2 separate regions of the Homo sapiens genome follow, and region 1 is linked to region 2. The links come from fine-mapping of genetic effects on gene expression. A gene starts in region 2. The other region holds a variant in brackets. All regions are shown on one strand. Distances are from middle to middle.

Region 1 (5,372 bases), 27 kb before region 2:
TCACATTTTGTTTCATGGCATGTGAAATATATACATGCTTTAAAATGTCACATGTGGCCGGGCATGGTGGCTCACGCATATAATCCCAACACTTTAAGAGGCTGAGGTGGGCAGATTGCTTGAGGGGGGTCAGGAGTTCGAGACTAGCCTGGCCAACATGGTGAAACCCCATCTCTACTAAAAATACAAAAATTAGCCAGGCATGGTGGTCCATGGCTTTAGTCCCAGCTACTCTGCTCAGGAGGCTGAGGCAGGAGAATCACTTGAACCCGGGAGGAGGAGGTTGCAGTGAGCCGAGATTGCACCACCTGGGCGACAGAAAGAGACTATGTCTCAATTAAAAAAAAAAAAAACAGACAGAAAGAAAAAGGTCACATGCGATTATAGGATTCAAGCAACACACAGGCCTAGTAAGCAAGCTAATAACCTTTCTCAACCCCTGTCGTCCCACATCTTTGAAACATCAATGTTTCCAGTACTCTTTGGTATAGTTCCTTCCACATCATTCTCTTTGCTCATAAGGATACATATAAGAGACTTTGTTTTCCTCAAAAGAAGTTATTATGTGCTTTGCTTCCCCCATGCCCCCGCCCTTGATATATCTATATCTTTATGTGTATCTCTCTCAACATAGATTCAGGGAGAAAGAACATATCTCGAATGGACATCTCTCCAGGTCATTACACAGAGCTCTAAAGCTGAGTTATGGGCCAGAGTGTGCTGCATCCTAATTTATTCCACGGATCCCACAGAAATGCTCAACACCTTGGGTCAGGATTTTTATACAAGGTTGTTTATCACAGCACAGTTTGTTCCATCGAAAGCTAAAAAGACTATGAAGGACAATCAGCAGGAGGGTGTGCTTTTTTGTCTCGAGAGGCTTTACTAGTGGCTCTAGAAGTCATCTTTTCTTATCAGTCTGGACCTGACCTTCAATACTCCAGGATCCCATCTGGAGGAAGATGGCTTCCACCTGGCCCTCCTCTCCAGTGACTATCTGAAGCCTCGCTCTGCTCTGCTTCCCCAGTTTCCCTCCCCATAGTCCTTCCTTCCTTTCTTTCAACTATTTTCTACTGGAGAATTTTCTGAGAGGTTATATAATCAAAAGGATTTCATCAAATGATGAAAGAGCAACCATACACCATGGCCAAACAATTGCATGTCTCTCTAGAAAGACCCTGGTACATTTTGGCCTAGAACTCAACATTTTCCAAAAGAAGGGTCCCTTTTTCACTTCAGGGACTCCATATGTCGGTTATAATGGAAATCCAGGCCCTCTTCTCATGGTAACAGTTCCTCAATTTTTCCTTTGAGGAAAGAGAGAGGGGCTCTGGGGCTACAGGCTTAAGTGGAACTGATCCTCCTTCCTGACACCATGAGGACCTAACCACAGCCTGGGCAATCAAAGATTCCACGGTAGCTCAGAGAAAGTCACGTGGTCCAAACTGGCCAATGGGAAACCGACTGGCTCTTTTGGCAGGAGCTCCCAGGCCTCTAGGAGGTGTGCCTGGATCCATTGGCAGCCATTTTATTGCCGCGCAGGGCAATCATGACTGCAAATGAAAACAAGAGAAAGTAAAACAGAGCCTAGAAAGAGAAAAAGACAGATCCCTGGTGATGTTGTTGGAGTTTCTAGATTCAGCTGGACTGAAAGTGAGACCCACCCACCTCTCACCTTTGTAATCATATGAACCAAACATTCTCTTTGGGATGAAGCCAGTTTGAGTTGGGTTTCTGTCCCTTGAAATTAAAAGAGGTCTTGGTAATAGAACACTATTTGTATTTCAAGTAATTAAGAAAATACATCCTATCGGCCAGGCGTTGTGGCCCCTACCTGTAATCCCAGCACTTTGGAAAGCTAAGGCAGGAGGATCCCTTGAGTTTGGGAGTTTGAGACCAGCCTGGGCAACATAGGGAGACCCCATCTGTATACATAATTTAAAAATTAGCCAAGTGTGGTGGTGTGCACCTGTGGTCTCAGCTGCTTGGGAGGCTGAGGCAGGAGGATCTCCCTAGCCCAGGAGGTCAAGCCTGCAGTGGGCCATGATCATGCCACTGCACTCCAGCCTGGGCCACAGAGCAAGATCTTGTCTCAAAAAAAAAAAAAAAAAGAAAGAAAGAAAATACATCCTGTGTCCCCACCCCACCCCAACTTCACACATACAGAGAGCTATTAAGAATTCAGTCATACTTGCAAAACACCTATACTTCATCTGCAAAGTTATCATATTGATGTAATGTACAAACAGTTTTCCTACTTCTAAAAATAAGTCTGAGATCCGTAAGGATTCAAGACCCACAGGTAAGAATCAAATACTCTATGTTGGTGGCTCATAAGGCATCTTGAACTGCCAGAGAGATATGCCTGGAAGCGGACCTCAGCTAAAGAGGGATGGGGTTGAGGGGTAAATACCCAGCTCCCCCTTTCCTTGGGAGGGACACCTTTGAGGCATGTTCTGCGCCGTCCCCAGAGTTCCCAGGGAGATCGGGGCCTCGGTTGTCCACAGCGCTCAGTAACATGCCTTTTATTGGCTTTCTTCCTTTCCAAGCCTCACTTCTCTGTTCCTTTTCTGGTGCATTCTGGTATCACCTCCAAATGAACCACTTCTAGAGGAATCCATGACTCAGGGTCGGCTTCCAGAGAACCAAACCAGGAAAGCTCTATCCTAACTCAGGAGACTCCCAACAAACCAGAGTCCACCCACATCCTCAGACTAAAAATCCCTGTTCTAAAGGACTCCACACACCAAGCAAGCGGTGCTCACTGCAAAGCCACCTGATATGGTGAGTTAGTGCCTTGTTAAAAAAAGAAACAAATTCCCAAGACCCTGTAGCTCCTTATACCTGATATTCTAATTGTCATCAGTTTGTGAATTTTTGAACTCTTCTAATCCTCGTGTTCCTAGGACACAGGCATGTTGTGCTTTTAGGGGCATGATTTACTGTTCCTTGCCAATTCTGCCCATCCCTCCACTGTGTTAAAAACCCTATGTTTATGTGGAACAGCCTTCTTACTGTTTTAATTCAGCTCCCCGTGATCTCCCTGCCCACAAGAAGAATTCCTGAAGCAGATGCTCCTTCCCTACCCGCTGAGCCTCACTTTCTGTCTCCTGTCCCATTTAGAAGAGCAATAGTGAGCTGGGAGCAGTGGCTCACGCCTGTAATCCCAGCACTTTGGGAGGCCGAGGCAGGTGGATCACCTGAGGTCAGGAGTTTGAGACCAGCCTGGCCAACATGGCAAAAACCCATCTCCACCAAAAATACAAAAAGTTAGCCGAGCGTGGTGGTGGGCGCCTGTAATCCCAGCTATGCGGGAGGCTGAGGCAGGAGAATTACTTTAGCCCAGGAGGCAGAGGTTGCAGTGAGCCAAAATCATACCATTGCACTCCAGCGTGAATGACAAAGTGAGACTCTGTGTCAAAAAAACAAAAAAAAAGA[T/A]AAAGGAGGAGGAGGAGGAGAGGAGAAAGAAGAGGAGGAAGAAAGAAAGCAGAAGAAGGAGGAGGAGGAGGAAGGAGGAAGGAGGAAGGGTAATAGTGATTGGCCTAATGGCACAGTGAGAGATCTAGGCAGGCAGACCTGGCTCTATCACTTAATACCCCTGGGACTTTGGCCAGAGGTGTCAGTTTCCCAATCTGTAAAATGGATCTATAATAATAATAACTACTCTATATAGTTACTAGTGAGAACAAAGTGAGATAATACAGGTAAAATGTTTAGCACGGTGCCTGGCACATGGAAAATGCTTGAGAAATGGAGGCCTTTGTTGCCACTCAAGTCTAGCAGTCTTAAATATTTGTCGAATGAGTGAATGAAGTCAAGAGAAGGCCAAGCTGTGGGCAGTGCCTTTGGCTAAATCCCAGAGGACCTGAGGTCCTGCCTGTCTTAGCCACTCTCTCCTGATTCTCTGTCTCTTTGTCTTTCTGTCTCTGTCTCTTCTAGTTCCATCCCTGCCTCTCTCTGTGTGTTTTTCTTCTCCTATTCTCTTTTTTTATGGTCTATTTCTCTCTCTCTCTCTGTGTGTGTGTGTGTGTGTGTGTGTGTGTGTGTGTGTGTGTTTCTATGTGGCTCTGTTTTTTTCTCTCTGTCTCTTTTTCTCACTTTCTGTTTCTCTCCTGGTCTCTGTCTGTATCCCACCCCCGCCACATCACCCCCACACCAGCCTCCTCTTGCAGGGACCAAGTTGTCAGGCTGCTCACGTCGTGGGCTGCCTTGAAACCTGCCACGCACATTCTCATAGTTAGATTTCTCCTGCGTCCACCTCTACTTAAAAAAAAAAATATTTTGACATTTGAGATTCAAATAAAAAGACCATAGAATGGCCTCAGGGAATAGCAGTGCCTGGAAAAAACAAACCTCATTCCTAAACTTTGTGATTATTTTTTATTTTCTTTCTGTCTCTGCTGCCTGAAGCAGAATAAACTTTGTGTTTTTGAAAGACACATAGCACGAGGGTATGGGAACCCCTGCAAGCCCTCAGTGGGAGTTGCCCCACAACCAATCCTCCAAGTGAAGTGCTCCCCACTACCCCAGTGCTCACCATGAACACCAAAGTGAGTTGAGCTGGTAACAATTTTGTTTTCTGGAATCTGTCAACATGCGCAGCAGTTGCTTCCTAATCCTGCTGAGCCATTAGCCACAAGTTCCTCTTTTGTTACAATTTAGCTGCGAGCTTCAGAGAGTGACAAGAGTCAGGAGAAGGGAGAGCAGGGTAAGGCTGTGAAAAGATCCTGAAGAGGTGTTAAGAGCTCAGCAGTTGAGCCAGACATCCCTGGGTTCAAGCCTGGCCAGAACACTTAAGGGCTGGCTAACCTTGGGCAGACTGACATCTAACAAGTGTTCGGTAATTGCAATGTGTTTGGCATTGTGATAAGCTCCGTAAAGATGATCTCATTTCATCTTCCCTGCAATCCTGTAAATGACAAACTGGCTGCAGCTCAGAGAGGCTGGCTAACTCATCCAATGTTACGCAGCTTTGAATGTCTACTCTTTGAACAGTCCAATTCCTCGGCCCAATACCTGGAGACTTTGAGTGGGGGGAGTGCTGGTTCCTGGTACTCCCCACCTCACCTCTGAGTGCCCTAACCACCATGGTCACTCCCAGTGGAATTTTCACCCATCATACAGCTGCCTCTGGAAGCTGTGTAACTGCCTTTAGTGCTGGCCCCTCACTGGAGTGGAGTCCATGCAGTCCTACAAATTCAAAGAACCAGAACACCCTGGTTGTCAAGGCAGATGGGTAAGTGAGTGCAGGGCATTTTCAGCAAGCCTTTGGGGGTGGGGTCTGGGGGTCTGTTTCTTGAGCATCCAGAGCTCCAGCCAGTAGCTTCCTAGTGCATGACTGTGGGCCACTGAAGAAGGGGCAGGAAGGTGTG
Region 2 (5,368 bases):
ATTCTTCCTCTTTTGGAGTTGAGAAAAGGAGAGAAATGACAGAGATGAAGAAGAGTCTAAGACATGGAAGAGGTGTATTCTGGGACATGGGAGAGGTGTACTCTGGGACATGGAAGAAGTGGGTTCTGGGACATGACAAACTGGGTTCTGGAACAGGGAGGAGGTGGATTTTAGGCTATCACAGTAGAGGCAGATTCTTAGGTCAGGGACCAGGTGGATTTTGGGACAGAGATGAGAGGTGGGTTCTGGGACATGGTGGAGGTGGGCTCTGGGACAGGGAGGAGGTACATTCTGGAACAGGGTGAAGGTGGCTTCTGGAACAGGGAGGAGGTGGGTACTGGGACAGGGTGGAGGTGGGTCTTGGAACAGGGAGGAGGTGAGTTCTGGAACAGGGTGGAAGTGAGTTCTGGAACAGAGAGGGGGTGGGTCCTGGAACAGGGAGGAGGTGGGTTCTGGCACAGGGTGGAGGTGGGTCCTGGGACAGGGAGGAGGTGGGTCCTGGGACAGGGAGGAGGTGAGTTCTGGAACAGGGTGGAGGTGAGTTCTGGAACAGAGAGGGGGTGGGTCCTGGAACAGGGAGGAGGTGGGTTCTGGCACAGGGTGGAGGTGGGTCCTGGGACAGGGAGGAGGTGGGTCCTGGGACAGGGAGGAGGTGAGTTCTGGAACAGGGTGGAGGTGAGTTCTGGAACAGAGAGGGGGTGGGTCCTGGAACAGGGAGGAGGTGGGTTCTGGCACAGGGTGGAGGTGGGTCCTGGGACAGGGAGGAGGTGGGTCCTGGGACAGGGAGGAAGTGCGTTCTGGAAGAGGGAGGAGGTGCGTTCTGGAAGAGGGAGGAGGTGGGTTCTGGAAGAGGGAGGAGGTGGGTTCTAGAAGAGAGAGGAGGTGGGTTCTGTAGCAGGAAGGAGGTAGGTTCTGGCACAGGGTGAAGGTGGGTCCTGGGACAGGGAGTAGGTGGGTTCTGGAACAGGAAGGAGGTATGTTCTGGAACAGGGTGAAGGTGGCTTCTGGAATAGGGAGGAGGTGGGCTCTGGGACAGGGTGGAGGTGGGTCCTGGGACAGGGAGGAGGTGGGTCCTGGGACAGGGTGGAAGTGGGTCCTGGGACAGAAAGAAGGTAGGTTCTGGAAGAGGGAGGAGGTGGGCTCTGGAAGAGGGAGGAGGTGGGTTCTGGAAGAGGGAGGAGGTGGGTTCTGTAACAGGAAGGAGGTGAGTTCTGGCACAGGGTGGAGGTGGGTCCTGGGACAGGGAGGGAGGTGGGTTCTGGAACAGGAAGGAGGTACGTTCTGGAACAGGGTGAAGGTGGCTTCTGGAATAGGGATGAGAAATGGATTCTGGGACAGACATGAGGTGGCTTCTGGGCCATGTTAGAGATAAATTCTGGGACACAAGAGAGGTGGGTCTGGGACAGAGACAGATGGATTGTGGGCGGGCCATCCTACTCTATGCTCCCAGAACCCACCCATGCAGTTTCCCTGGCGCCCCTAACACATCCCGTAGCCACTGTTAGTCTCCCCCAGGTCTTAGCTCAAACGTCACCTCCTCCAAGCAGCCTCCTTGGGGCCTCCATTCGCAGCTCATCAGTCCCCTGGTCAGACAACCGTCCTGCCTGTACTTCCCCTCCTAAACCCTACCCGGGGGTGAGGGTCCCCTCCCGCTAGACGGTGGCTCACTGAGGGCAGGGCGGGCCTGAGCGCTCACCGCGCACGCTCAGCGCAGCTGGCAGGGACGGGGACCCAGGCTGGCCCATCATTACTGTACTGAGCGAATGAGTTTTCCATGAGACTAAGAATCTGGTTTGATTTGCGGTTCCATTCCAAGTGCCTGAGGGCCTCAGAAGTCCGTGTTGAGTCCATCAATAAAGGAAAGAAGGCGTTAGGGCGAGAGGAAGTGAGGTGGGGGGGAAGTGAAAGAGAATGAAAAGGAGGAAATGGAGACGAGGGCGACTCAGAGAGGAACAGAGAGACAGAGGGAGGGAGAACTGAGAAAGACACAGAGCGAAAAACGAAAGAGCGAAGGAAGCGACGCGAGCCTTTCTTAATGAATGACTGCACGCCCGTCGCCGCCTGCGCGCAACCTCGGGCTGGGCGGGCGCTGCGTCTCGGGGCGCACTGCCAGGACCCTCCGGAGCGGCGGCGGGCGCGGCCTCGGGTCGCCTCCCGCACTGCGAGCGCAGGTGCCGGGTGCAGGGGGGTCCCCGGCCCCGCCCCGCAGGCCCCGCCCCCCCGTACCCCCTCCCCCGGCGGCCCAGCGCGCGCGGCATTGTGGGAGTTGTGGTCTTCGCGGCCCCGCGGAGCGCAGCGCGGCGTCGGCACCGGCAGGGGCACCGGCGCGGCTTAGGCTCGGGCTCGGGCTCCGGCTCGGGCTCCCGCGGCGTGGGCTGGGCAGCAGCCAGGCGGCGGCTCCGCGGCGCCGGGCAGGGGCCGTCCGCGGGTCCGCGCCCTCGGGCGGCGGCGTCTCCTGGGTCCCGGCAGCCGTCCGCGCGCCCGGGCGCAGGTAAGCTTCGTCTCCGGGGGCTGCCGGGGCGGGAGGGCGGCGCGGCTGGGCCGACCCCAGGACAGGGGTTGGAGGCGGGAGCCCGGCAGCTGCAGGCCCACGGCCCTCCCTTACCGGCGCCGCCGCCGCCGCCGCCCCCGCCGAGGATGCTCCGGGACCCGGGCGCCCGCATCCCGGCCCGGCCGAGGCCAGTGCTCGTACGTGCTAAGCGCCGCCGCCTCGGAGCCGGGCATCACCCTCCCTAGACCTCCTCCTACTCCTCTTCCCTGCCCCATCGTGGTCCCTTCCTCCATCTCCCTTCTCCCCTGTGACCCCTCTTTCCTCACCTCCTGTCCCCTCCCCCAGCCCTCAGCATCACCCACTTCCCATATTTCACGTGGTGACCCTCCTCCCCTGTCCCACGAATTATGAGGCGCCATAAACCTCCTTCCACAATCTTGAGCTGATCGTCCACTTTTCCGGGCAACACTCACCTTTCCATCGTCCCATCCCCCTCCTCCCCTGACCTCCTGGTGGTCACCATCTGTGCTAACCCATCTTCAGCCCTCCCCTCTTTCCCACTCTCCAGGGCAGGTGGGTGCTGAGAAGCTGGCCAAGAGAGGGAAGGTCCCCAGGTCTGCACCGGGAAGGGCTGGCCCCACGGCATCTCTCTGGCTCCTGAGTGGAGAGGGTGACAGGCATCACACACCTTGCCCAGTGCTGCTCACTGGGGGGCTTCCAGGGTGACTTGGCCTCATCCTGAGGGTGAGCAGACACTCTTTGGCATTAGGCAGCCTCTGGGAATGGACATCTGAACTAGGCTGACCAGGTCAGGCCTGACACCGGCTCTCCCAGGTGTTCATGGTGTGAGAAGTTGTCTTGGATTGGACTTGCTCTCCAACTGGCCATGGATTTGGACTCAATTCCCCAGAGCCAACTGAGCTGGAAGATCTGGGGTTGCTTATTATTAAAGTGCAGAGCTGCAATGAGATGTCCCCATCCCTGATGAGGACAGAAATAACACAGATGACAATGAACAGATGTGCGAAGGAAGCTGGAAGCTACTGTGGTCACTGGGCAAGGAGCTGTCGGGGGAGAGAGTCTCTCCTCTCCCCACTGGGTAGATGGGGAGTTGTCACTAGGTAGCTGTGAGGATCAAATGTTTGAAGCAGTGCTTAATAAACTGCCAGTCACTCTGCAAATGTGTTTCTTTTATTGTCATAGTTCAGCTTTGAGCTTGTAAATCCACCTCCGGGTGCAGGGGCCTGTTGGCATATTTTGGCTAAAAGTGACTGACAGGTATGAAAAGTCCTAACTTGAGCTCTCAGTGCTATTTATGATCTCGGGAGGAGGGTCTGAAGCTGGGGTTCAGAATCTTTTACATTCTTTTGCTTACAGCTCAGCCTTAGGGAGGGCTCATGGCTGGCTTAGTACAGAAGGAGGCTTTCCTGAGAAGAGTACAGGGCTGGGGTGTCCAGTGGAGAGGTTTCTCCATCATCCACCCTGTTTTCTGTGTCTGCATTTTGCTTGACTTAAGTGATCAGCAGGGCTGATGGGAACTAACACTTTACAGGTGCTTGTTAAATTATCACCGTCTCACTCTTAGAACATTTAAGAAAAAAACCTTTCCTCCTGACAGACTCAGTTGAAAAGTTCCAGTAGGGGTTTAGCTCAGTGATGGGGGAAATCCTTTTAGTAAAAGTGCTTGGTGTCACATAGATGATTGTTTCACACTGAATTTCAGGAACTCTGAGGTTCTGTTTGGGAGATGGCTTGCAAACAAAACATCTTTCATCTGGATTTTCTTTCCTTTTCCTAAAGAGTAACAGCTGCCAGTTTATGGTCTAACAAGGAGAGAAACAGGGGGCTGAAGGGGTTTCTTAACCTCCAGTGAGTCATAGCCTTTTCCTCTTCTCCTGAATCTGAGAAGAAATTGAGAATGTGTGGGAAAGAAAAAAAAAAAAAAACAAAAGAAAACAAAAAACAACTTAGCTTCTAACCTCCCCACTCTTGTATTTTTCCTAGAAACATAAAAAATTTCCATGAATATTCAGCATGTGTGTTTTTGACTTACTAAACATTATAGTCAAGTGATTATTCAACCGAAACTGGGAAAAAGCAAGTAGGCAGTTAATGAGCACCTAAGGTTTCCCTTTCATTTTTAGCTTAGCAAGTCTGGGGACAAAAAAGCCACTCAATACATGAGGCAACAAGAGTGTCCAGGATTTACCTTTAACTGTTGGAATTCCGAGTCTTGCTATACCTTTCTCTCGTGCCCCACCTTTGGAACGCTGGCTACTCATTATGGGATGCCACCCATCCTAGCCGTCGCCTGCATATATTGGGTGCTCATTATGACGTGGTCGTAAGTGCTGTCCATCCGCCATCATTCATCTTCATCCAGTGAGATGAACACGAACCCCATTTCATGGATAAAGAAACTGAGGCAGCCAGGCGCAGTGGCTCACGCCTGTAATCCCAACACTTTGGGAGGCTGAGGTGGACGGATCACCTGAGATTGGGATTTCAAGACCAGCCTGACCAACATGGAAAAACCCCATCTCTACTAAAAATACAAAATTAGCTGGGTGTGATGGCGCATGCCTGTAATCCCAGCTACTCAGGAGGCTGAGATAGGAGAATCACTTGAACCTGGAAGGTGGAGGTTGTGGTGAGCCAAGATTGCACCATTGCACCCCAGCCTGGGCGATAAGAGTGAAACTCCGTCTCAAAAGAAAAGAAACAGGCTTAGGAAAAGCGATCTGCCCAAGGTTGGGATGAATCCTCAACTGGGCCCATCTCTAATCTGGCTTCTCTCTGCTACGATGCTGCAAGAATTTTCAGGCCAAATTTCAGTCCCTGGGTAAAGGGAGGGTACAACTTTTCCATTTTTTAAGC

What was found. PIP is the estimated chance that this variant, and not a neighbour inherited with it, causes the effect. A credible set is the group of variants that fine-mapping cannot tell apart.
Region 1: its variant is the best candidate, but not a certain one, in a credible set for the expression of ASPHD2 in whole blood (TOPMed, PIP 0.80).

What each region holds. Positions count from the first base shown.
Region 1 is chr22:26,400,446-26,405,817 of GRCh38, forward strand. No RefSeq gene overlaps it. Among named protein-coding and RNA genes, the nearest start is that of ASPHD2, 26 kb to the right of the region's middle. RefSeq lists an enhancer at 4,468-4,984. The variant T/A (reference allele first, on the strand shown) is at 3,439.
Region 2 is chr22:26,426,996-26,432,363 of GRCh38, forward strand. It overlaps ASPHD2 (aspartate beta-hydroxylase domain containing 2), which reads left to right and starts at 2,265. Exons shown (of 4, transcript NM_020437.5): 1 at 2,265-2,491. RefSeq lists silencers at 2,106-2,235, 2,356-2,415, 4,148-4,442.